3 separate regions of the Homo sapiens genome follow, and all the other regions are linked to region 2. The links come from fine-mapping of genetic effects on gene expression. A gene starts in region 2. Each other region holds a variant in brackets. All regions are shown on one strand. Distances are from middle to middle.

Region 1 (8,174 bases), 34 kb after region 2:
GAAAAAACAAATTTTCCTTTGTTTTATGGAATGAGTTTATAGATTCCTGTTCTCTGTAACTCATGACTTCAAGTATTCTGTTTTATCTAAGAAGTACAGCGAAGGTCATGAGAAGCCTGAGCTGCCTGGGCACCACAGTGAAGGTTATGGGATAAGCCCGTGCCTAGGCTAACCTAGATAAGGGACATCTGGGTTGCATAGCAACGGTTATGTGCAATCCTGAGTTATAAACCTGTTACAACAATTTGATTAACTGTTTTTGTTCTGCCTCTGTATCCCTGCTGTCACGCCACTGTAAGCTTGCTTCAAGCTAGCCCACCCCCTTTTGTGAAGTGTGTATAAAAGTCAAGTGCTACCTTTGTTCTGGGCCGTCTTTGGACGTGAGTCGGCTTGGGCCTGAGTGCACTCAATGAAAGATTCTCCTGCTTTAACCCGAGGGCTCTCTCCTGTCGTCCTGAATCCCGCAACAGTGGCTCACCCCTATAATCCCAGCACTTTGGGAGGCTGAGGCAGGCAGATCACATGAGGTCAGGAGTTTGAGACCAGCCTGGCCAACACAGTGAAACTGTCTCTACTAAAAATACAAAAAAAAAAAAAAAAATTAGCTGGGCATAGTGGCGTGTGCCTGTAATCCCAGCTACTTGGGAGGCTGAGGCAGAAGAATCGCTTCAACCCAGGAGGTACAGGTTGCAGTGAGCCACGACTGTGCCACTGCACTACAAGCCTGGGAGACAGAGCAAGACACTGTTTCAAAAAAAAAAAAAAAAATTCTGACCCAAGCCACAGAGGGATCTATCCTGGCTCTGACCCATCCCCCTGCACTGAGGCTACAATGTACCCATCTGGAAAAGGAGGACAGGGGTAGACGGAAAAAGAGAGGACAGAAAGGGGACAATCACACAGGGAGTACAAGGTGGCTGCTGGAGCTCAGCCAGGCCTCCCTGAATGGGAAGGTTTTTCCTACTTCTAAACTGATGGCAACATTGCTGAGCACACAGAAGCCACCACAAAAGTGACTTCTGACAAAAACACAATCACCCTCAAAGTCCTTTCAATCCCTTAATGTATGAGATGTTTCCTGCAGCTCAAACCCAAGCCATCGCTCATTCACGGCCCCTCGCAGGGACCCCAACCACCCCAAGCCATTACTTATTCACAGCCCCTCACGGGGACACCAACCACCCCAAGCCATCACTTATTCACAGCCTCTCACGGGGACACCAACCACCCCAAGCCATCACTCATTCACGGCCCCTCACAGGGACCAGCAACCCACCCCAAGTGGGGGAAAGCTCACTTAATGCCATCGAGCCAGGTGACAAACTCATAGGCGCTGCTGGTGGGAGCGTGACATTGTACGTAGGACTCGGGAGCGCAGTCCACTGTGTTGAACACCACGAGGCTGTACTGGGTCCCCCCATACTGGGAGGGGAGGACAGAAAACTTTTAATCTGGGACCTCAATTCCCTTTTCCCTTAGAGAAGGAATCAGGGCTCCCAGCTTCCCGTTCCTCCAGAACCAGGAACTCCTCAGCTTCCTCCTTCCTCAGACCCAGCAATCTCGGCCCCAGCCCCTTCTCCCTCAGACCCAGGAATCCAGGCCCCCGGCCCCTCCTCCCTCAGACCCAGGAGCCCAGGCCCCAGCACCTCCTCCCTCAGACCCAGGAATCCAGGCCTCAGCTCCTCCTTTCTCAGACCCAGCAGTCCAGACGCCCAGCCCTTCCTCCCTCAGACCCAGGGATCTGGGCCCCTAGCTCCCTCCTCCCTCGGACCCAGGAATCCGGGCCCCAGCGCCTCCACCCTCAGACCCAGGAGTCCAGGCCCCCAGGCCCTCCTCCCTCAGAACAAGGAGTCCAGACCCCCAGCCCCTCCTCCCTCAAACTCAGGAGTCCAGGCCCAGCCCTTTCTCCCTCCCTCAGACCCAGGAGTCCAGGCCCCCGGCCCCTCCTCCCTCAGGCCCAGGAGTCCCTAGACTCACGTCTCCCCCGAAGTCCGTCTCAGCAGGAGGACCACCATTAAAATACCTGTGAGGGTAGGAAGTGAAAGGTCGGAGTCAGGCAAGAAACTGTGCGAAACTGAAGTGGGAGGGCGGGGTTAGAGTCGCGGAAACAGCACTCACTCGATGGCCGGGAGCAGGTAGTGCTTGCGGAGCCCCTCGAAGTAGGGTCCCAGGTTGGCCGTACCCTCAATCACAAACACCACGTCGGCCACCACGCTCCCGGCGCGGGCCGGGCCCTCGGACCCGGGGACCATACCCCGTGCGGTACCCGCCACCACCACTGCAGCCGCAGCCGACGCCGCGGAATGAGCAGAAATGCGCCTGCGCCGCGCGCGCGCTCGCGTCGGGCGGTTTAGGGCTGCTGGGAATGCTGCCATGTTTGTGCGGGGCACGCGCTGAGGCTTCGTTCTAGCTCCATCCTCCTTCGCCCCCACCGCGTGGAAGACTCAGAAAGGGCATAGTTAGCCCTTCTAGGGGCCTGATGGGTTAGACGGAATTATTGTCAAAAGCTAAATAAATTGAAAGCGGCTCAGTCAGCCGCCATCTTTGAGCGGGGCGTCCAGGTCCGCCTCTTGTCTCAAAGGGAGGGGCAGGAGACCTGGTTGCTATGCAACGCGTACGCTGCCCTTGTTTTCGTTTTTGTGTTTTGTTTTTTGTTTGTTTGTTTTTTCGAAACGGGAGTCTCGCCCTGTCGCCCAGGCTGGAGTGCAGTGGCGCGATCTCGGCTCACTACAACCTCCGCTTCCCGGGTTCAAGCGATTCTCCTGCCTCAGCCTCCCGAGTAGCTGGGATTACAGGTGCCCGCAACCACGCCCCGCTAATTTTTGTATTTTTAGTAGAGAAAGAGTTTCACCCTGTGGGCCAGGCTGTTCTCGAACTCCTGACCTCAAGTGATTCGCCCGCCTTGGCTTCCCAAAGTGCTGAGATTACAGGCGTGAGCCACCGCGCCGGGCCCGCTGCCCTTGTTTTGTAACCGTTAGATTAAGTTTCTGGTTCTGTTCTTTCGGGCGTGGGGACTAGGGGAGGGACGCGAGAAGGATCCAATCACATCGGCGGAAACGAGGTTACTAGGCGACGCTTTAAGGTCGTCCTCAACTTGGAAGGGAGGGCAGTTGTTTTCCCCCCCGAAAAGAAGCCGAACACCAAACCAAGTGCGGGTTGCTAAGCAACACCTGAGCGTTGTTTTCTGGGAGAGGAGCCAGAAACTGGCTTAGAACGTAAATACATTCCAGGTGGATTAAAAATGTAAGTGCAACAAATGAAACCCGAAAACTATCTGAAGGGAAAAAATCTTAATGACTGCCATGGAGTTTCTTAGCACTACAGCAAAGTTAGAAAACGTAGTCTTCATTAATTTTTCCCAAAAGACTGTATAAACCAAGTTGAAAAATATACGGCCAACTGGGAAAATCTTTCTAGCGTGTTTGTTGACAGAAATGTACTACGCAAATAAATCTTACTGATGAATAACAATATAGAAAAATAGAAACACTTCATTACTATTATCTTTTAATTTTAATTTTTATTTTTTGAGGCAGGGTCTCTTTCTGTTGTGCAGGTTGAAGTGCAGTGGCCCAATCTTGGCTCACGGCAGCCTCTACTCGCACTGGAGCCACTCTTCAGCCTGTGGAGCAGCTGGGACCACAGCCGCGCACTACCACTTCCAGCTAATTTTTAAATTTTTTGTAGAGATGGGGTCTCACTGTGTTGCTCTGGCGTGTCTCAAACTCCTCGGCTAAAGCGATCCCAGGTGTTAGCCATCGTGCCCTGCCACTTTATATTTGTTTTAATAGAAAGAAACCTGACCAGGGCCGGACGCCGTGGCTCACGCTTGTAATCCCAGCACTTTGGGAGGCCAAGGCGGGCAGATCACCCGAGGTAAGGGGTTCAAGACCAGCCTGGCCAACATGGTGAAACTCCTTCTAACTACTAAAAATAAAAAAATTAGCCGTCCTGGTGGGCGTCTGTAATCCCAGCTACTTGGGAGGCTGAGTCAGGAGATTCTCCTGAACCCGGGAGGCGGAGGTTGCAGTCAACTGAGATTGTGCCACTGCATTCCAGCCTGGGCGGCAGAGTTAGACTCCGTCTCAAAAAAAATAAAAATAAATAAATAAAAAGAAACCTGACTAGTTTCACACAAACACACACACAAAATTTTGAATGGCCAGTAAATATTTTAAAACATAATCTTCGGCCGGGCGAGATGGCTCATGCCTGTAATTCCAGCACTTTGGGAGGTAGAGGCGGGCGCATCACGAGGTCAGTATCACTGGGCGTCGTGGTGCCCACCTGTAATCCCAGCAACTCGAGAGGCTGAGGCAAGGAGAATCGCTTGAACCCGGGAGGCAGAGGTTGCAGTGAGCCGAGATCACGCCACTGCACTCCAGCCTGGGCGACAGAGCGAGACTGTCTCAAAAAAAAAACAAAAAAAACAAAAAAAACAGGCCGGGCGCAGTGGCTCATGCTTGCAATCCCAGCACTTTGGGAGGCCAAGGCGGGCAGATCACGAGGTCAGGAGATCGAGACCATCCTTGCTAACACGGTGAAACCCCGTCTCTACTGAAAATCCAAAAAAAAAAAAAAAAAAATTAGCGGGGCGTGGTGGCGGGCGCCTGTAGTCCCAGCTACTCCGGAGGCTGAGGCAGGAGAATGGCGTGAACCCGGAAGGCGGAGCTTGCAGTGAACAGAGATCGCGCCACTGCACTCCAGCCTGGGGGACGGAGCGAG[G/A]CGCTGTCTCAAAAAAAAAAAAGTAATAATAATAATAATAATCACCAATTGAAAAGTACTTACAGAAAGCCTAATGATAAAGGTTTTTACCTTTATCATTTAAAATTATTTTTTATTGGGTTTCTATTTTTCTTTTATCTTTTATTTTTATTTTTATTTTTTTTTATTTTATTATTTTTTTTTTGACAAAATCTCGCTCTGTCGCCCAGACTGGAGTGCAGTGGCGCAGTGTCGGCTCGCTGCAGCCTCTGCCTCCCTGGTTCCACCGATTCTCCTGCCTCTGCCTCCCCAGTAGCTGGGACTACAGGTGTGTGCCACCTCGCAGGCAAATTTTTGTATTTTTGTTAGAGACAGGGTTTTACCATGTTGGCCAGGCTGGTCTCAAACTCCTGACCTCAGGTGATCCACCCGTTTTGGCCTCCTAGAGTGCCCGGATTATAGGCAGTGAGCCTGCGGAAGCCCTTTTTTTTTTGAGACAGTCTCATTTGCTGAAGCTTTTTTTTTTTTTTTTTTTTTGAGATGGAGTTTTGTTCTTGTTGCCCAGGCTGCAGTGCAATGGCACAGTCTCGGCTCACGGCAGCCTCCACCTCCTGGGTTCAAGCGATTATCCTGCCTCAGCCTCCCGAGTAGCTGAGTTTACAGGCATGCGCCACCACGCCCAGCTAATTTTGTATTTTTAGTAGAGCCGGGGTTTCTCCATGTTGGTCAGGCTGGTCTCGAACTCCAGACCTCAGGTGACCCGCCCACCTTGGCCTCCCAAAGTGCTGGGATTACAGGCGTAAGCCGCCGCGCCTGGCCTGCTGAAGCCTTCAAATCCATACAATCATATGATTTTACTCCTGTGTGCTTGGCAGGCATCTTTCCAATTTTATGAACACTTTCTTACATTACTAGTATGCCATTGTTACCTGTAACAAAATTAACTTCTTAGTATCATCCAACAGTAAGTGTGTAATCAAACGTTCCAATTGTCTCAAAATGTGTTTTTACAGTTGGTTTATTTGTATCAGGATCCAAACAAAGACCACACACATATTTAGACATTATGTCTCAAGTTTCTTTTCATCTAGAGCAGCCCCCTCTTTTATGCCTGTGTAACTAACATTTTAATAAAGTTGTAAGGAAGATAAAAGTAATCCAGAGAAAGGAAAAAAAATATCAATAGGCAAGAAGGAAGATTAAAATGGTACCTAGGCCAGGCATGGTGGCTCCTGCCTGTAGTCCCAGCACTTTGAGAGGCTGAGGTGGGTGGATCATTTGAGCCAAAGAGTTTGAGACCAGCTTGGGCAACATGGCGACACCCTGTCTCCACAAAAACTACAAAAATTAGCTGGACGTGGTGGGGGCACACCTGTAATCCCAGCTACTCAGGAGGCTGAGGCAGGAGAATCGCTTGAATCCTGGAGGCGGAGGTTGCAGTTAGCCGAGATGGTTCCACTGCACTCCACCTTGGGCGACAGAACGAGACCCTGTCCCCTCTCCCAAAAAAAAAAAAAAGAGAAAAAGATGTACTTTAGGAAGTAGGAAAATTAAAAATTATGCTAGAAAGATGGGCTGATCTGCAAGAAGGAAGAGGAAGGGAAAAATGAATCATAAATACTTTTGTCATTACAAGTAAATGCTGCCTGTGTAAAATAATAAAAATATTCATAAGGGCATTTTAAAAAGTCAGTAAAATGCTGTCCCAGCACTAGTTGGCTAGTCTGGAGGAGTTCAACAACCTAATGTACATCAATACAGAATTGGTCAAATCAATTTGTCACATCCATAAAATAGATTATAAAAATACATTATTAAGATGAAATAGACATACTTTTTCATGGCAAAAAAGAAAGTGTGGAAATGTTAGTATATTGATCATCTTTGTGAAAACGTATGAATAGTCTACGTTAAACTGTATTTTAGGAAAAAAATTGGGGAAGGGATTTTTCACATTTTACATGGTATGCTATCATGTATAAATTCATTACAGAAATGATATTATTTTTATTATTCTGGAAAATAAAGGATTTCCTTGTTTTCTTTTTTCTAATAACAAAAACAACCTTTTTTTTAGTGGTTACTAGGCAACGATCGCTGGACTCAACCACCCTCGAAGGTTGTAGGGGAGATGGTGTTTTTCTCGATTTCGCCCCAAGGAGGGTGCTCGGACTTCGACGTGCCGCCATCTTTGAGCAGGGCACAGCTGTTTACAGCCTTGGAATGGATATCAGGCTGAATGGTGGTTGCTTGGCAACGCCCCGCCACGGTCGCCATCTTTGAGTAGGGCACATTGTTTACTACTATATACTGGAAACCTACAGGGAATGTGGTTGCTAGGCAATGCTTTGGGACCATCGCAATCTTTGATCCGGGCACAGCTGTTTTTTCCGTTTAGAATGTAAATCATCAAAGCCTACAGGATGGTGGCTAGGCAACGCCTTGGCGCAGTCATCATCTTCAATCCGGCTTCTTGGTTCTCTTTACCTCCTCGGAGAAACTAGAAAGCTTTGCAAATTCAATTTGCCGCCATCTTTGTTAGGGGTACCGTGACTTCCGGCTAGGGCGGAAGAGAACCTAATGGGTTTGGGGGAGGTGCCTGAATAGGGTTTGAGGGTCTGTTTGAGTTGGGTGAAGAAGGCGGGAAGTTAATCCTCTTCCAATCAGCTCCCCATCTCGCCCTCTGGCGGCTCCGGACCACAGGCCGAGTTACTCTGATTACCGCCATGCTCCAAGACCCGCACTGACAGTCCCCACGTGAGGGACCGCGGTGGGAGTCCTAAATGGGGGAGGAGGGGACGGGCGGCACTGTGCATCTGCTGTGCCTCGCGGCCTCCAGCGGGGTCCCCCTATTCTGCAGGAGCAGTCGCGGCGGCGCCCCCGCCCGTCAGCAGGTGGGGCCTTGGACGCCTGTATCTAAACCGAAGGGGGTTCGGTGTTTTGACTCTGGGTCTTCAAGGCAGTAGGGGCTGGGGAAGTTTCAGTGTTGAATTTGTAGGACCGAGGAGGCAATGGACCAATAAGCCTGGTTCCCCAAAGAGGCACTGCCAGGTCATATGGAAAGAGGATGGGGCTGGGAGCTGGCACACTTGGGTCCTAAGGGGGAAGGGGATGGGGGGGTGCTCTTGTCTGATGTCCCTAACCCCTCCTTAGCTCCCGTTCTCTGTCATCGGTTCCCTCAATGGAGTCCACATGTTTGGGCAGAATCTGGAGGTGCAGCTGAGCTCTGCGAGGACCGAGAACACGACTGTGGTGTGGAAAAGCTTCCATGACAGGTCCCCAGGAGGGAACGTGGGACAGGGACAGGGCCTGGGTGATAGTCCCTGTTGAAGATGACCCCGGAGGCCTTCCAGCTCTCTAAAAGCAGCTGTTAATTTGGCTATGGGATCTTTAGCAAGCCAGTTACCCTCTTTGATCCCTGATGTTCTCTATAAGAAAGGCAGGTTGGTCTGAGAGAGGATGTATCTGGT
Region 2 (8,174 bases):
CCGCTTCAGCTTTGCAGTGGAGTCAGAGTAGGGTCTGCGCTTCTGTGGGGGCAGGAGGGGCGTCACTGTGCACAGCCTAGATGCCCTGGCCTGTCCCCGCAGGGACAAGACAAGACCCTGGAGGCCAGCCGCAGCCCCACAGAGACTCACCTCCTGCCACTCGAGGACGCCGCTCCAAGCCAGCAGCTTGTTGCTGAGCCGGTGCTCGCTCACGGCCAGACCCCCGAGGGTGAGCCCAGGTGAGGAGGGACCGATGGGACCCAGTGCCCCGAAGACCCGAGCACCTTCCTGCAATGGAGTGGGGGATAGGTGGGAAAACTGAGGCCGGGGCCTGCAAGGACAGGCAGTCCCCACACACCCCAGAGGGGACGTCCCAATATTCAGCCCCAAATCCCCTGCTGGAAGCCCACGGGGCCATGTCCAAACCCTCTGCTCACCCCTCAGGACCCCCACACGCTGGTCCTCATGTCCTTTCCCGCTGCCCACCCTCAGGACCCTTCCTTCCCAGAGCCTGCTGTCACCTTGACACTGGCCCAGCAGAGTCCTGAAGCCTTCAGCCAGCCCCACCTCCAGCCTTTGCCCCAGCTGTGCGCCTGATCGATTCTTGAGACCCAAGTTAGAAGCCAGCTGTAGGGGGCTTTCCCCGTGCCCCAGGCTGGGCCCAGGGCTTCCTTGCAGCCTCCACAGGCACAAGCCGGCTTGCGCTGTGTCTGTCCCACACACCAGCTTGCCCTGTCTTTCCCAGGCTGAAACTCTCCTAAAGCTCCCTGTCATCCCAAAGTTCAATTCCTTCCTCTGGCTCAGGCCAGTGCCCACCTCTCTGGCCTTATAAGTCTGACCCCGGGGGGAGGCAGGAAGGAGATGACAAGAAACACAGAGGGGACTAAACCATCCAGGAGAAAGACAGCGAGGAAAAGGGGGAAACATTTGGAAGACAGCTGGGACACCACCCCCAGAGGGGTCTCACAGACCAAAACATGTAGAACACCAAGAGAAAGTTCTAGCAATAAAGCCAAGCAACGCCACAAATGCTACTCACAGGCACTCTCCCCACTATTTTTATTACTATTTTTTTTTTGAGACAGAGTTTCACTCATTTCCCAGACTGGAGTGCAGTGGTGCGATCTCAGCTCACTGCAACCTCGCTCACTGCAAGCCGCGCCATCATGCCCGGCTAATTTTTTTTTTTTTTTTTTTTTTAGTAGAGATGGGGTTTCACCATGTTGGCCAGACTGGTCTCGAACTCCTGACCTCAAGTGATCCGCCCGCCTCGGCCTCCCAAAGTGCTGGGATTACAGACGAGGGCCACCAAGCCTGACCTCACTTATTGTTTTTTAAAACCAAAAACATCTCAAAGCAAACAAGGGAAAGCTCCGCAAACAGCCTGGCAGCAGGAAACCCACGAGAGTTTCCCCGTAATAGGCGCCTCCAGGCGGGGGAAAACAAATTATAAGGGTGATTTATTTTTATCTTATTACAAACAGGTATTTTCCAAATTTTCTATGAAGCACAAGGAGATCTTTCCTTCCAGAATACTAGCAAACACAAAAAATTTTATTTTGTGAGTGCTTAAAAAGAGAAAAACCTGAACAAACTTGCTCTCCACCCACGCAGGTGATTCTCCACCCACGCAGGTGATTCTTCACCCACGCAGGTGATTCTGACTTTTGGGCAGTCGTCAGAAGATCAGATAGAAAACCTGAGTATCTTGGCGTTAGAATGAGTTGGACAGAGAGTGGATGTTGCCCCGGGGGCTTCAGGCACCATACCGGACATCCAGCATCTGAGATGAGTTAAAACGCACAGCTGGAGGTGACTTTCGAGATGAGGGTACACTTACAACATACAAGTTGTTTATGGCGCTGGGACCTGAGGTATCTAGTCCGCATATACAGTGACACGTATGCATTTACTGCCACAAAGATGGGTAAAAGTCAGGAGAACGCACTTAAGAGCCCAAGCGACATACTTAATGTCTGCTTGTCTAGGAGAGCAGGTTGACTCAGGACTTCAAATATGCTGGGATCTGGAGCCATAGTAAAGAACACATATGCTTGCCTAAAACCCAGGGATACCTTCCACAGCAGGAGCAGCACATCAAGATGGGACGATCATATTTAAAAACGACGGTTAAGGTGCAACCTAAAGTAAATCTCACATCTTGGCAATCGTGTGCAAAACTGCGCGCCTGACATCCCTATTGCACAGGGAAGCCCATCTAGTACTTGCACTGAGGTTTAAAACCTTGGGGTGCATGTCTGAGGACCCGGAAAGCACTTTTGAACAACTAGATGCGAATGCTGCAGGAAGGGGCGAAGGCAGTGGAGTGAAGGGGTACGTTTAAGTTGTGGGAGGTGATCTAAGTCTCGGTATCCATGTTTATGACCCCAGGAAGCCTGTTTAAGGTTTCAGTAGGGCTGCCACAGCTCTGTGCCATCCACACCGCTGAGGCAGTGTATTTAAGAAGCGGACCCGAGCGCGAACCCAGGGGAAATCTCACATCGGGGCAAGCGTGTGCACGGTGCAAAGTCGCGATGTGCGGTTTTACAGCCCCAGGTAAACCTTACGGTTTCTGAAAAGCATGTGCATCTTTTGGGTCCGGAGAAGCGTGTGCAGCCCAAAGTACCTGCGAAGCTGAATGTTTACGTTTAAGGTCTGGGCTCACGGCAGTCCATCAAAGCATCCCACATGTGGGCGCGGGCGCGTATTCTAGGTGCGCACTCCACGGGCACGGAGCGGCCGCCAGGGGAGAACGCCCACGGGTGCGACATCTGGGGGCGCTGGTACAAAGCGCGGGCCCCTCCCTCGCCGCTGTCCCCCAAAACCGCCCCCATTTCCAGGTTTCCTGCCCGGAGAGCGAGCAACTCTCCAATAGGAAAAACAAGCGAGCGTGCCGGCTGCCTGTCTGCCGCCCCCAGCCCGCGTTTAAATCGGGCCGCGGAGTCAGCAGTAATATGAGCCCGCCCCGCCCCCGTCCCCCAACCCCCCACCCCGGCCCGAACGCGCAACAAAGGGGAGAGCGCGGCGCGAACCACCGGGTGCTCCACGGGGGAACCCGGCCCCGGGCGGGACCACCCTTCGGGCCACAGGGGACACCCCGGAGCGGCGGGGGCTGCGGACAAAGGCGTGAGCCCGGGATAGGGGCTGGGGGGGCGGGGCCGTGGAAGGCTCTGGAAAAAGGGCGGGGGGCTCACCATGGGAGGGGCCGAGCGGGCCCGGATCCGCGGAGGCTGCGGGCCTCGGGGGCTGGCAGGCCAGGAGCGCGAGCGGACGGCGCGCACCACGAGGGGCCGCGGAGGGCGGCCGCGACCCCCGAGGGGGCCCCCGGCGCCGGAGCGGTACGGGGCACGGCGCGGACGGACCATGGCGGGCGCGGGCCGAGCGGGCGGGGAGCTGCCGCGGGCCACAAGGGGGGCTGCGGGCTCCACCGACTGAGGGGCGCGGGCGCGGGCGCGCGGCTTCGGGGGAGACGGGCTGAGCCGTACCAAGCTCGGGGGACGCGCCGCCGGAGTGGGGTCGCCGCGGCCGAACCACTGAGGCGAGCGGGGGAGCCCGGCGCGTACCAAGCGCGTCCGAGGGGGCGTGGCCGGAGCGTACCAAGGCGGCGCGGGGGAGCGGGGCCCGGGCGGGAGCGGAGTGTGGGCTCGGCGGTCCTGCGGGCCTCTCCGGCGCGGGGGAGTCCTGGGAAGACGCGCGAGCCACAACTTCAGGGGGCGTGGCGGGAACGGGAGCCCCTACCGAATGGGGTGGCAGAAGAACGAAGGCGACACCAAGCTGGCCCCTTGCGGGGGTCGGGACGGCGGGAGACCTCATCCGGAGCCCTGGGCCCGCAGAGCCAGGAGACCGCGCCAAAATACATCAGGGAAGAGGGGAGGACGGAATAATGGGCCTGGGGACAAAGGAACCCACTGAAAGGGAACCCACTGAGGGTACGGATTGCACCCGAGCCTGAGACAGCTGAAGGTTTGCAGTCGGTGACGTGGCGAGGTGGGCAAGGGACTCCAACTCCCAGCGGGCCCCGCGCGGCCTGGGCGGGGCCAGCTGTCCCTGGAGGCTCCGCCCATTAGCCCCGGCGCCCAGGCTCCGCCCGCCGTCCCTGGCGACTCCAAGCTTCTCGCCACTCACGTCGCTCCCCGGCCTTCCGTGGATTCGCTCATTCGCTCTGCTAAAATGGAATGACTACTTACTAGTAGTTGTATAAGATTTTTCCCTCGATTTTTGTTCCTTAAACGTGGGTAATACCTAACCCTAGAGTGGTTATGGGGATCGAGCCCGAGGGGCTGTGCTTGACTGCTTGGCGCAGTCACTACTCAAATGTTAGCTTTTCTTTAAAAACAACAACAAAAATCTGTTATGAGTACCCTGTCCAGTTCTGTGCTCGGCGACGACCGAATCAGACCACGTCCCTCACAGGCCCCACGGTCCACTGGGGAGAGACATAATCACAGGCTGTGCTAAGTGTTAACTAGCGCACATCCACAGGGCGATGGGATATGACCATAGCGAGGTAAAGTTAGCAAGCAAGGGAAGTCAAGAAAACGACCTGTGAGCAACCTGCCATTCCAGATGGCTGGAAAAGTGTGCAAAGAGGACAGAACAGCAAAGACAAATCCTGAAAGTAGAAGGAATAAAAGGGAGCCAGTGTGGGCGGAGTCGAGTGAAGGTAGAGAGGAGAAATAGACACAGCTGTAGGAGGTTAGAGACGGAGTCCCTACTTCTGTTTCGGATGTTGACTAAACAATGTAGATAGATATTGATGTCATAGCCTGGAGAGAGAAATTCGGGAGTCATCAGTGTTTGAATGGAGACTGGATGAGCTCACAAAGAGACTGGGACACTCATCCCTTTAGCAGTCACGACAATGAGAAGCAACCAGCAAAGGACACGGAGGAGTGGCCAGTGAAATGGCAGAAGAACCCGTAGGCCTGTCCATGTTTTCCTGCCCAGGGGCTCCCGAGGGCTGACTGGAGCCCAGCCTTAAACCCCAAATCCAACCTGCATTGTGGCCAAACGGAGTCAGTGCTCCCTGAACACAAACTGCAAGTTAGTTATCAACAGGTACCTCCAATGCCCTGTCAATCACCCATGTGAGGACAACCTGGCAGCAGGAAGGAGAAAAAACAGGAGCTGCTTTAATCTCCCGGAATCCTCACTTCTCCCCATTCTTGTTGGTCCAAACCATCAAGATCTCTTGCCTGGGTGACGTCTCCTAACTCTTGCTGCCTTCTCTGTCACTACAATAATCAAAACCATCCAATGGCTTCCCAGTGCCTTTAGAATTAAATCCAAACTTGGTACTGTGGCCCCTGCTGCCGCCCCCCAAAAAATCTCTCTCCCATCCTTCCTGTTCTCTACCTGTTAATGCCTTCCCATCCCTCAGAACCCATCAGGACACACGTGAGTTTGAATGCCCTGAATTGTATAAGCATGGAGAGCGGTATACCAGGGTGTACTCCAGAGTGAGCAAAATGGGAACTCATGTCAGAAAGTGAAATGAAAATGTAGGCTGAAATTCTATCAGTAATACTGCAACAAAACTCTCTGAAACCATCTCACTTAACTCGGTCCACCAACTTGAAAGACACTTTCCTTTTCATCTGTGAAGCCCACTGCTGGGGCTAGCAGGCTACTATTATGACTAAGCAATTCCACTTCCATCTCTCAAGCTGTTTACTTCCTGAAAGGTAGCTGTTTGATCCAAACCTGTTTATGCCAGAAGTTCTTGTTTAATTTACTATCAAACTAATGAAATTAATGCAAGACAGTTGTTTATACACAAACCAGATTGCTTGCTTTGGAAAGACTAAAAGGGAGTTGTTAAAAGAAAAACATGCCAGGCGTGGTGGCTCACACCTGTAATTCTGCACTTTGGGAAGCCGAGGTGGGCAGATCACTTCAGGTCAGGAGTTCAAGACCAGTCTGGCCAACATGGTGAAACACCGTCTCCACTAAAAATACAAAAGTTAACCGGGCATGGTGGTGTATGCCTGTAGTCCCAGCTACTCTGGAGGCTAAGGCAGGAGAATCGATTGAACCCAGGGGGTGGAGGTTGCAGTGAGCTGAGATCTCACCACTGCAACTCCAGCCTGAGCAACAAAGCAAGACTCCATCTCTTAAAAAAAAAAAAATGCTGCCAAGTTAGGTACAAGTAAAGCAACTGTAAATTATTTAATGAAAAAGCTTATAAAAACCTAGGAAGACTCAGCCCCCAGTTTGTTTCATAAATGTCTTTAGGTTCTCAAGCCACTTAAAAAAATGACTCATTGTGGTTTGTGGGTGGAGCTTATACAAGAATGTGATGTTCTACTGGGCGCAGTGGCTCATGCCCGTAATCCCAACACATTGGGAGGCTGAGGTGGGAAGATTGCTTGAGCCCAGGAGCTCGAGACCAGCCTGGGCAACACAGTGAGACTCCCACCTCTACAAAAACAACAATAATTTTCTAGGCATGGTGGCATGCACCTGTGGTCCCAGCTACTCAGGAGGCTGAGGTGGGAGGATCTCTTGAGTCCAGGAGATTGAGGCTGTAGTGAGCCGTGTTCACACCACTGCACTTCAGTCCAAGTGACAAAGTGAGACCCTGTCTCAAAAACAAGAATGTAATGTCGTGTGCTAACTAGGAGACCAATACTGAAAGAAAGGGTCTTGGTCCTACGTACAAGAGATGTCTGTTTAAATGTTCTTGGTTAAAATAAGATGTTTAAAGTGTTAAGATGGCCGTTAGTGCTATTTGCCATATATTTCTAGCTCCACACTTGGCCAGCATTTGACCCCATTTAGCTTGAGTGCGGCCATGTGATTAATTTTGGCCAGTAAGGTGTGAGGCCATGTGATTACATCTGGCCAATGAGATATGAGCAGAAGTGACACATGTGAATTCAGCAAGAGCACATAATTGCTAATGGAAGACCAGACCCCTCTGCCTTTACTATGTCCATTGGCAACCTTCATGATCTGTCCGCACGGGCTCCAAGCTGACACTCAATACAGCACGAGTGACAAAATCCACCTTGGCTGTTTCAAGCCACTGCAATCTGGGGGTAATCTGGCCTTTCCTGATATACACAATTTTTTTTTCCCAAATAATCCCAGTTTAACCAACATTTGTTAAACCAATCAACTACCAAGTCTGAGTTTCCTAGAAGAACAAACTGGCAGTACATATAGGTTGGATGACATAGGCTAGGACACAATGACAACATGGACAAAGTGTTTTATACTGGCCGGGCACGGTGGCTCATGCCTGTAATCCTAGCACTTTGGGAGGCTGAGGCAGGTGGATCACCTGTTGTCAGGAGACCAGCCTGGCCAACCTGGTGAAACCCCATCTCTACTAAAAATACAAAAATTAGCCAGACGTGGTGGCAGGCGCCTGCAATCCCAGCTACTCAGGAATACAAATACAGTCTCCTGATTGATCCTCCAATTCAAGCAGGAGAATTGCTTAAACCCGGGGAGGCGGAGGTTGCAGTGAGCTGCACTCCAATCTGGGCGACAGAGCGACATTCTGTCTCAAAAAATGCTAATAGGCTGGGTGCGGTGGCTCACACCTGTAATCCCAGCACTTTGGGAGGCTGAGGCGGGCAAATCATGAGGTCAGGAGTTCAAGACCAGCCTGGCCAACATGGTGAAACCATGTCTGTACTAAAAATACAAAAAATTAGCTGGGCATGGTAGTGGGTGCCTGTAATCCCAGCTACTTGGGAAGCTGAGGCAGGAGAATCACTTGAACCCAGGAGGCGGAGGTTGCATTGAGCTGAGATTGTGCCACTGCACTCCAGCCCAGGTAACAGTGTGAGACTCCGTCTCAAAACAAACAAATAAAAAAGATAATAAAATGCTTTATGCTAAGAAATGGGAGTAAGATCATCTCTGGCTTGGATTTTTCTTTTCTTTCTTTGCAATTACAAAATAGTTTATGGCTGATTTTTTTTTTAAAGGTCTGCCTGATACATGCTTTGCAAACTCTAGGTATTTCAACTTTGTCATCATCGTGTGTGTCCAGACGCAGAGGCTCACACCTGTAGTTTCAACACTTTGGGAGGCTGAGGTTGGAGCATTGCTTGAGCCCAGGAGTTTGAGACCAGCCTGGGCAACATAGCAAGACCCCATCTCTACAACTATAAAACTAGCCAGGCGTGGTGTTACATGTCTCTAGTCCCAGCTACTCTGGA
Region 3 (8,174 bases), 110 kb after region 2:
CTCGAGGAGATGCGGTGGGCGGGACCCAAGGGACGGGGGTTCTCAAGTAGCTGAGGTGGGCGGTGACATGGGTGGAGCCTCGGGGACCTGAGGTGGGCGGGAACATGGGAGGAGCCTCGAGGAACGAAGGTGGGTAGAGACACGGGAGGAGTCTCCAGGAGCTGCGGTGGGCGGGGACACAGGGGAGGTTCCTCAAAGATCGTTTTTTGTTTTGTTTTGTTTTTTTTGAGGCGGAGTCTCGCTTGTCGCCCAGGCTGGAGTGCAGTGGCGCCGTCTTGGCTCACTGCAAGCTCCGCCTCCCGGGTTCACGCCATTCTCCTGCTTCAGCCTCCCCAATAGCTGGGACTACAGGCGCCCGCCACCACGCCTGGCTATTTTTTTGTATTTTTAGTAGAGACGGGGTTTCACCGTGTTAGCCAGGATGGCCTCGATCTCCTGGCCTCGTGATCCGCCCGCCTCGGCCTCCCAAAGTGCTAGGATTACAGGCGTGAGCCACCGCGCCCGGCCTAGATCTTAACCGGAAGGCGACAAGGCTGGGGTCTCCAAGAGCAGAGGAGGGAGTGCCCCGAAGGCAGTGACCTGAGCAAGGGAGGGACAGAATAAGGAACTTTTTAGTTCTGGGCTGCTGGGAGGCAGGTCCAGGCCTGGTGAAACTGAGGTGGGCGGGGCTTAGGAGAGGAGTGGTCCTGGAGGCACCACGTGGGGCAGAGTAGGGTGGGCAGTGCCTTGGGGGGCCAGTGTCTGGAGGAGCCCAGGTAGAGGTTGGGGACCTGACCAGGAAAGGGCCAAGATAGCCAATAAAGGAAGGGGATAAAGGCGGGGCTCTGGAGGACACGACCAAATTTCACCAAATGGAGGGTGCAATAAAATTTGGTGACCTGGGTGGGTCTGGAGCCACGGGCATGGTCTCAGTGGGGCGAGATAGGTGAGTCCTGTCCCACCTATCTCGTGGGGGTAGGTGGGGACCTGTTGAAGCCTAGCCCCTACCCATTCCCCTCCTCTGCCCCTCCAGGAGAGAGGTGTCCTCACTGACCGCCCGGTGGCATCAGGAGGAGGGGGCGGTGCAGGAAGCCCTGCGGCTGCTCGGGGGCCTGGGCGGCAGGGTCGACGGCTTCCTAGGCCAGTGGGAGCGGGCACAGCGCGAACAGGCACAGACGGCGCGGGACTTGCAGGAGCTGCGAGGTCGGGCGGATGAGCTGTGCACCATGTGAGGATTGGGGCCAGTGCATGGGAAGACCGGAAGGGGCAGGGCAATCCCAACCTGAGGGCGGGGTCTTGAGGGAAATGGGTAGGCCAATCAGCTATGGCCAGGCATTCCGGAACATATACCGACATCGGGAAACACCAATTAGAGAGCAGGAAGGGTTGCATCAGCCCTAATAAGGCCTGAGGGGTGGAATCAATTAGAGAAGGGGTGTGGTCTATACCTTAAAAGGGCAAAGGGTGGGGTCAAGTGGGATCCGAGAAAATCAATTAAGAGAACTAGGAGGGGCATTCCAAACAGTAATCTACAAAAGGTGGCCCAGTGAGGTGGCTCACATCTATAATCCCAGCACATTGGGAGGCCGACGTGGGCGGATTACTTGAGGCCAGGAGTGCAAGACAAGCCTGGGCCACATAGCGGAGACCCCATCTCTACAAACAATTTAAAAATTAGCTGGGAGTGGTGTGGTGTCGCACCCTGGTAGTCCTAGCCACTCGGGAGGCTGAGGCAGGAGTGATCGCTTGAGCCCAGGAGTTCAAAGCTTCAGAGAGCTATGATGGTGCTGCTGCACTCCAGCCTGGGCCACAGAGCCAGACCCTGGCTCAAAATAGTCAACAGATAAATAACATAACATAAAGTAAAATACAAAAAGTGAGGCCAGTCAGAGCAGAGAGGGGAGGGCAGGGTGGAGAATTGCTGACCAGATGGAGACGCAAGTGGTGGGCTAATAATGGGTGGAGTCTTGCCAGGGTTATACCGCTGAAGAGACGACCCAGCAGCACTGGTTACTCATGCCTCAGGGTGGAGCGGTCAGCAGTGTCTGTGGCTTCACTGAGGAGCGAACTGGAGGGGCTGGGCCCACTGAAACCCATTCTGGAGGAGTTCGGGCGGCAATTTCAGAACTCTCGAAGAGGGCCTGACCTCTCCATGAACCTGGATCGGTCCCACCAAGGCAACTGTGCCCGCTGTGCCAGGTAACGGGGCTGGGCTTGCCTCTGGGAGCCTTGTGGATAGGACATTAAAGGAGATGCGGAAGGAGATGGGACATTAGTGAAGGGTGGGGCGCTGTTCATTTTGGGAGACAAGGTATCCCAGTGCATTGTAGAAACAGCCGGTCCTGCTGCACTAGAAGCCTCATTTGTTCCCACTCTACAAGGTAGAATCAGTGTCTTGTGGAACTCAAGAGAAACTTGGTACAGGCCGGGCGCGGTGGCTCTCGCCTGTAATCCCAGCACTTCGGGAGACCAAGGTGGGCGGATCACTTGGTGTCAGGAGTTCGAGACTAGCCTGGCCAACGTGGTGAAACCCCGTATCTACTAAAAATACAAAAATTAGCTGGGCGTGGTGGCGCGTGCCTGTAATCCCAGCTACTCAGGAAGTTGGGGCATGAAATTCACTTGGACCAGGCTGGGCGCGGTGGCTCATGCCTGTAATCCCAGCACTTTGGGAGGCCAAGGCAGGCAGATCACAAGGTCAGGAGATCAAGAGCATCCTGGCTAACATGGTGAAACACCGTCTCTACTAAAAATACAAAAAAAAATTAGCTGGGCGTGGTGGCGGGTGCCTGTAGTCCCAGCTACTAGGAAGGCTGAGGCAGGAGAATGGCGTAAATCCGGGAGGTGGAGCTTGCAGTGAGCTGAGATCATGCCACTGCACTCCAGCCTGGGAGACAGAGTGAGACTCCATCTCAAAAAAAAAAAAAAAAAAAAAAGAAATTCACTTGGACCCGGGAGGCGGAGGTTGCAGTGAGCCGAGATCACGCTACTGCACTCCAGCCTAGTAGGTAGAGTGAAACTGTGTCTCAATAAAATAAAAATAAAATAAAAAGGGTGGACGCAGTGGCTCACACCTGTTATCCCAGCACTTTGGGAGGCCAAGACGGGCAGATCACTGAGGTCGGGAGTTTGAGACCAGCCTGGCCAACATGGTGAGACCCCATCTCTACTAAAAATACAAAAATTAGCTGGGTGTGGTGGTGAGCACCTGTAATCCCAGCTACTTGGGAGGCTGAGGCCAAAGAATCTCTTGAACCTGGGAAGTGGAGGGTGCAGTGAGCCAAGATCGTGCCATTTCACTCCAGCCTGGGCGACAGCAAGACT[C/A]CATCTCAAAAAAAAAAAAACACTTAGTACATTTTAAGCATCATATTTCCAGTGCATTGTGGGAAGGCTGGGATGTGAACATGAGGAGAGGCAGGGTTTCAGTGCACTGAGGGGGAAGTGAGACCTTGGTGTATTGTGAGAGCCGAGGGATACACCATTTTTGGCCCATTGTGGGAAGGTCCATTGTAGGAAAGGGGGACTCACAGTACAACATGAAATCGAGTTTCACTAGTGTATTATGGGAAATGTTAGTTCTTGACGGCCTTTGCAAACTGAGGGCTGTCTGGTGCCCTTAGGAATAGTGACTCTGGCTGGGCGTGGTGGCTTACGCCTGTAATCCCAGCACTTTGGGAGGCCAAGTGGGAGGATCACCGGAGGTCAGGAGTTTAAGACCGGCCTGGCCAACATGGTGAAACCCCATATCTACTAAAAACACAAAAATTAGCTAGGCGTGCTGGCGGGTGCCTGTAATACCTGCTACTCAGGAGGCTGAGGCAGGAGAATCGCTGAACTCAGGAGGCAGAGGTTGCAGTGAGCCAAGATGGTGCCACTGCACTCCAGCCTGGGTGACAGAGCGAGACTCCATCTCAAAAAAAAAAAAAAAAAAAAGGGCCGGGCCCGGTGGCTCATGCCTGTAATCCCAGCACTTTGGGAGGCCGAGGTGGGCAGATCACGAGGTCAGGAGATCAAGACCATCCTGGCCAACATGGTGAAACCCCGTCTCTACTAAAAATACAAAAATTAGCCGGATGTGGCGGCACATGCCTGTAGTCCCAACTACTTGGGAGGCTGACGCAGGAGAATTGTTTGAACCCGGTAGGTGAAGGTTGCAGTGAGCCAAGATTGCGCCACTGCACTCCAGCCTGGGTAACAGAGCCAGACTCCGTCTCAAAAAAAAAAGGAGTAGTGATCCCCAGAGCACCATGGAAACCAAGGGACAGCTGGTGCACAGTGCATGCTGGGAAGGTTGCATAGGGTGCATACTGGAAACGAGGCCAAATGGAGGCTCCACAGGTGAGCATGGGGCATGGGGCGTCCTGGAGTTGGTACTGGGCCTCTTTATCTGGTGACCGCCCCTCCCCCAGCCAGGGGTCGCAGTTGTCTACGGAGTCCCTGCAGCAGCTGCTGGACCGAGCACTGACCTCACTAGTGGACGAGGTGAAGCAGAGGGGCCTGACTCCTGCCTGTCCCAGCTGTCAGAGGCTACACAAGAAGATTCTGGTACCAGGGAATATGGGCCACCATGTCCCACTTTACTTTTCTGTTGGGGCAAGGGGAGGGGAACCCCGGACTCAAGGGTACTGCTGGTGTGTGGCAGAAGGGGAAGGGCTGAGCTGGGAGCAGCAGGCACTGGGGGAGGACTTGGCCCTAATGCATGGGGAGATGGACAAGCAGTTTGGTGGTGAGTGAGTCACAGGCCAATCATTACGCTACCTCGGAAGATGGACTTGGGCCTAAAGCATGATAGGACGTTGGATCTAGTGCATTGTGGGACACGAGACAGACACCAGTCTAAAGCTTCATGGAACATAGGCCTGATTTTCTCTAAACTTTTAGAGAGGCGGTGCATTGTACAAGATCATTGGGGTCAGCTATATTGAGGTAAAATAGGAGACCCAGTGACTGTAGGCCCCAGTTAGCTGATGCGTTATGGGAAATGGAACCACAGCTCTTCCTGGGGCATTGCACAACACACTCAGCCCAATAGTTGGTGGAACTTGAGCCCTAGTGCACTGTATTATGGGATATTGACCTAATGTACTATAGGATTATGTTGTAGTGGGTGAGACAGACAAGTGAGGCACTGTGGGACATTGATGTGGCCGAGCTATAGGACTAATACATGAGAGGAAATGGGGCTTGGTGCAGTTGTACGTAGAGAACCAGGGCACTAAGGACTGTTTTTTGTTTGTTTGTTTGTTTGTTTTGAGATGGAGTCTCGCTCTGTCGCCCAGGCTGGAGTGCAGTGGCGCAATCTCGGCTCACTGCAAGCTCTGCCTCCTGGGTTCACGCTATTCTCCTGCCTCAGCCTCCCAAGTAGCTGGGACTACAGGCGCCTGCCACCATACCTGGCTAATTTTTTGTGTTTTCAGTGGAGACAGGGTTTCACCGTGTTAGTCAGGATGATCTCGATCTCCTGATCTCGTGATCCGCCTGCCTCAGCCTCCCAAAGTACTGGGATTACAGGCGTGAGCCACTGCGCCCGGCCTTTTTTTTTTTGGAGACAGAGTCTCGCTCTGTTGCTCCAGGCTGGAGTGCAGTGGCGCCATCTTGGCTCGTTGCAACCTCCACCTCCCAGGTTCAAACGATTCTCGTGTCTCAGCCTCCTGAGCAGCCAGGATTACAGGCATACACCACCACGCCCAGCTAATATTTGTAGTTTTAGTAGAGATGGGGTTTCACCCTGTTGGCCAGGCTGGTCTCGAACTCTTGACCTTAAGTGATCCACCCGTGTCGACCTCCCAAAGTGCTGGGATTACAGGCGTGAGCCACTGCGCCCGGCCAGGACTTTTGTGTGAGAGGTGCTGGTCTAATGGATAAGGAGATGTGGGGTCTTCCAAATTATGGAATGTAGGAGGTCACCATGTGGTAGAATACTGGGGTGCACACACATATCAAATGTAGGATAGTTCATGAGCTTAGGAGACAGACGATAGGCACTGATTTAGTGCTTGCTGGGACATAGGTCAGTGCATCATGGGACAGACAATAGGACAGACACAGATTTAGTCCACAGCGGAATCTGGAGACCAGTGCATTGTGGGATGCTGGGGTCAGTCTCAAGCTCAAGGCATGATGGGAAACTCTGAGGGAGAAATGTGGGCCCCATGGGACCCTACCCTTTGCCCTCCGCAATCCAGTTCCCCCTCCACCCCCAGCCCAGTCCAGCAAGCCCAGCTACGCCTACGCTCCTCTCCCCAGGAGCTGGAGCGCCAGGCCTTAGCCAAACACGTCAGGGCAGAGGCCCTGAGCTCCACCCTTCGGCTGGCCCAAGACGAGGCCCTGCGGGCCAAGAACCTACTGCTGACAGACAAGATGAAGCCAGAGTGAGGAAGGAGGCTGAGGGCATGGGAGGAGGGTGAGATCTTGGGGAAAGGGCCTGATCTCCCCTTCCACTCCAACACCCCAGCACCTAGCCATGCCGCCATCAACTCCCCGCTGCCTCATGACAGGGAGAAGATGGCCACTCTGGACCATCTACACTTGAAGATGTGCTCCCTCCACGATCATCTCAGCAACCTGCCACTTGAGGGGTCCACGGGAACAATGGGGGGAGGCAGCAGTGCAGGAACCCCCCCAAAACAGGGGGGCTCAGCCCCTGAACAATAAATGGCCTCTCATGCTAGCATGAATTCTGTCTGCTTTTTGGGACCAGAGTCCTAGTGAATTGCACACACACCATGCACTCCCTCTATGCCCAATGTGATTTATTTATTTTAATTAATTAATTAACTTTATTATTCTTTTTGAGACAGATTCTCACTCTGTCGTCCAGGCTGAAGTGCGTGTGATCTCGGCTCACTGCAACCTCCACATCCTGGGTTCAAGCAATTCTCCTGTCTCAGCCTCCCGAGTAGCTGGGATTACATTCGCACACCATCATGCCTGGCTAAGTTTTTGTATTTTCAGTAGAAACAAGGTTTCCCCATGTTGCCCAGGCTGGTCTCAAACTCCTGAGCTCAGGCAATCTGTCTGCCTTGGCCTCCCAAAGTGCTAGGATTACAGGTGTGAACCACCACACCCAGCCCACTGTGATTTATTTAATTTTCAGCAAACAGGATGTCGTGGTCCCCACAGAGGTGCTGGTGGTGGTACAGTTCTTTGAGATGGCAATGGTGGTAGAAACAAGGTTCTGTGGTATAGTATAGGTCTGTCAAGTCAACATTTTTTAGGCTGATTATTACTAGATAACTATATTAGTTGTCTATTGTTGTGTAAAAATACCCCATAAGTTAGTTGCTTAAGATAACAAATGTATCTCAACTTCTGAAGGTCAGAAATACAATCAGTTAACCTCACTCCTGGGGTTAGGTCCTGGCTGAGATCCTCATGAAGTTAGAGTCAAGATGTCAGCCAGGACCAGAGGCGGTGGCTCACACCCATAATCCCAGCACTTTGGGAGGCTGAGGCGAGTGGATCACTTGAGACCAGCAGTTTGAGGCCAGCCTGGCCAACATGGTGAAACCCTGTCTCTATTAAAAATACAAAAATTAGCCAGGCACACACCTGTAGTCCCAGCTACTCGGGAGGCTGAGGCACAAGAATCGCTTGAACCCGGGAGGCAGAGGTTGCAGTGAGCTGAGATCGCGCCATTGTACTCCAGACTGGGTGACAGTGAGACTCCGTCTCAAAAAAAAAAAACAAAAAACACAAACAACAAAAAAAAAACATTGAAAAATTGAGACAGTGTCTCACTATGTTGCCCAGGCTTGTTTGGAACTCCTAGACTCAAGGGATCCTCCTGCCTTGGCCTCCCAAAGTGCTGGATTACAGGCATGAGCCACTGTGCCCAGCCGGACAATGTTTTTTTTTATACCCAGGGCTTTTCACCCATAGATTTAATACCCCTCCCCCGCCAGTACACCTCTGAGCTCAGAGGGAAAGCACAGAGTTATGATATTTCCCTCCATAAAAGACAGAATAGGGAATTGGCAGTTCCTCAAAGTAAAAATACCCTCTCTAACAGACAGAATATACCTGGAAATACCCTCTGTGTCTGGCAGAATAGCCAATTTCTTCAGGTGAAAATGAGGCAATAGGCCGGGCACAGTGGCTCATGCCTGTAATCCCGACACTTTGGGAGGCCAAGGCAGGCAGATCACTGGAGGTTAGGAGTTTGAGACCAGCCTAGCCAACATGGTGAAACCCTG

Alleles and levels. Alleles are on the strand shown, and positions count from the first base shown. SD is a standard deviation of normalised expression in the study named. Not every link is listed here.
As copies of C replace A in region 3, the expression in subcutaneous fat of the gene that starts at base 3,535 in region 2 goes up (large effect, 0.87 SD a copy in FUSION).

What was found.
Region 1: its variant is fine-mapped to the expression of PTOV1 in whole blood (TOPMed, PIP above 0.99).
Region 3: its variant is fine-mapped to the expression of PTOV1 in subcutaneous fat (FUSION, PIP 0.95).

Annotation. Positions count from the first base shown.
Region 1 is chr19:49,812,420-49,820,593 of GRCh38, reverse strand. It overlaps FUZ (fuzzy planar cell polarity protein), which reads left to right and starts at 7,302. Exons shown (of 11, transcript NM_025129.5): 1 at 7,302-7,598; 2 at 7,858-7,979. The coding sequence starts at 7,488. It overlaps MED25 (mediator complex subunit 25), which reads right to left and starts at 2,305. Exons shown (of 18, transcript NM_030973.4): 1 at 2,119-2,305; 2 at 1,978-2,023; 3 at 1,298-1,422. The coding sequence starts at 2,252. RefSeq lists silencers at 2,097-2,256, 2,183-2,349 and enhancers at 2,387-2,746, 6,739-6,788, 6,999-7,238, 6,625-7,431. The variant G/A (reference allele first, on the strand shown) is at 4,726.
Region 2 is chr19:49,846,520-49,854,693 of GRCh38, reverse strand. It overlaps PTOV1 (PTOV1 extended AT-hook containing adaptor protein), which reads right to left and starts at 3,535. Exons shown (of 12, transcript NM_001394010.1): 1 at 3,195-3,535; 2 at 151-288; 3 at 1-42. The coding sequence starts at 3,365. PTOV1-AS1 (PTOV1 antisense RNA 1) reads left to right here and starts at 3,018. Exons shown (of 4, transcript NR_040037.1): 1 at 3,018-3,126; 2 at 7,941-7,971. It overlaps MIR4749 (microRNA 4749), which reads right to left and starts at 103; the gene lies at 43-103. RefSeq lists enhancers at 696-755, 3,727-3,836, 5,638-5,717 and silencers at 3,337-3,626, 4,067-4,146.
Region 3 is chr19:49,738,235-49,746,408 of GRCh38, reverse strand. TSKS (testis specific serine kinase substrate) reads left to right here. Exons shown (of 11, transcript NM_021733.2): 7 at 1,013-1,207; 8 at 2,005-2,178; 9 at 4,389-4,524; 10 at 6,226-6,350; 11 at 6,477-6,649. The coding sequence ends at 6,633. Among named protein-coding and RNA genes, the nearest start is that of TSKS, 21 kb to the left of the region's middle. RefSeq lists enhancers at 1-241, 4,843-5,137. The variant C/A (reference allele first, on the strand shown) is at 3,304.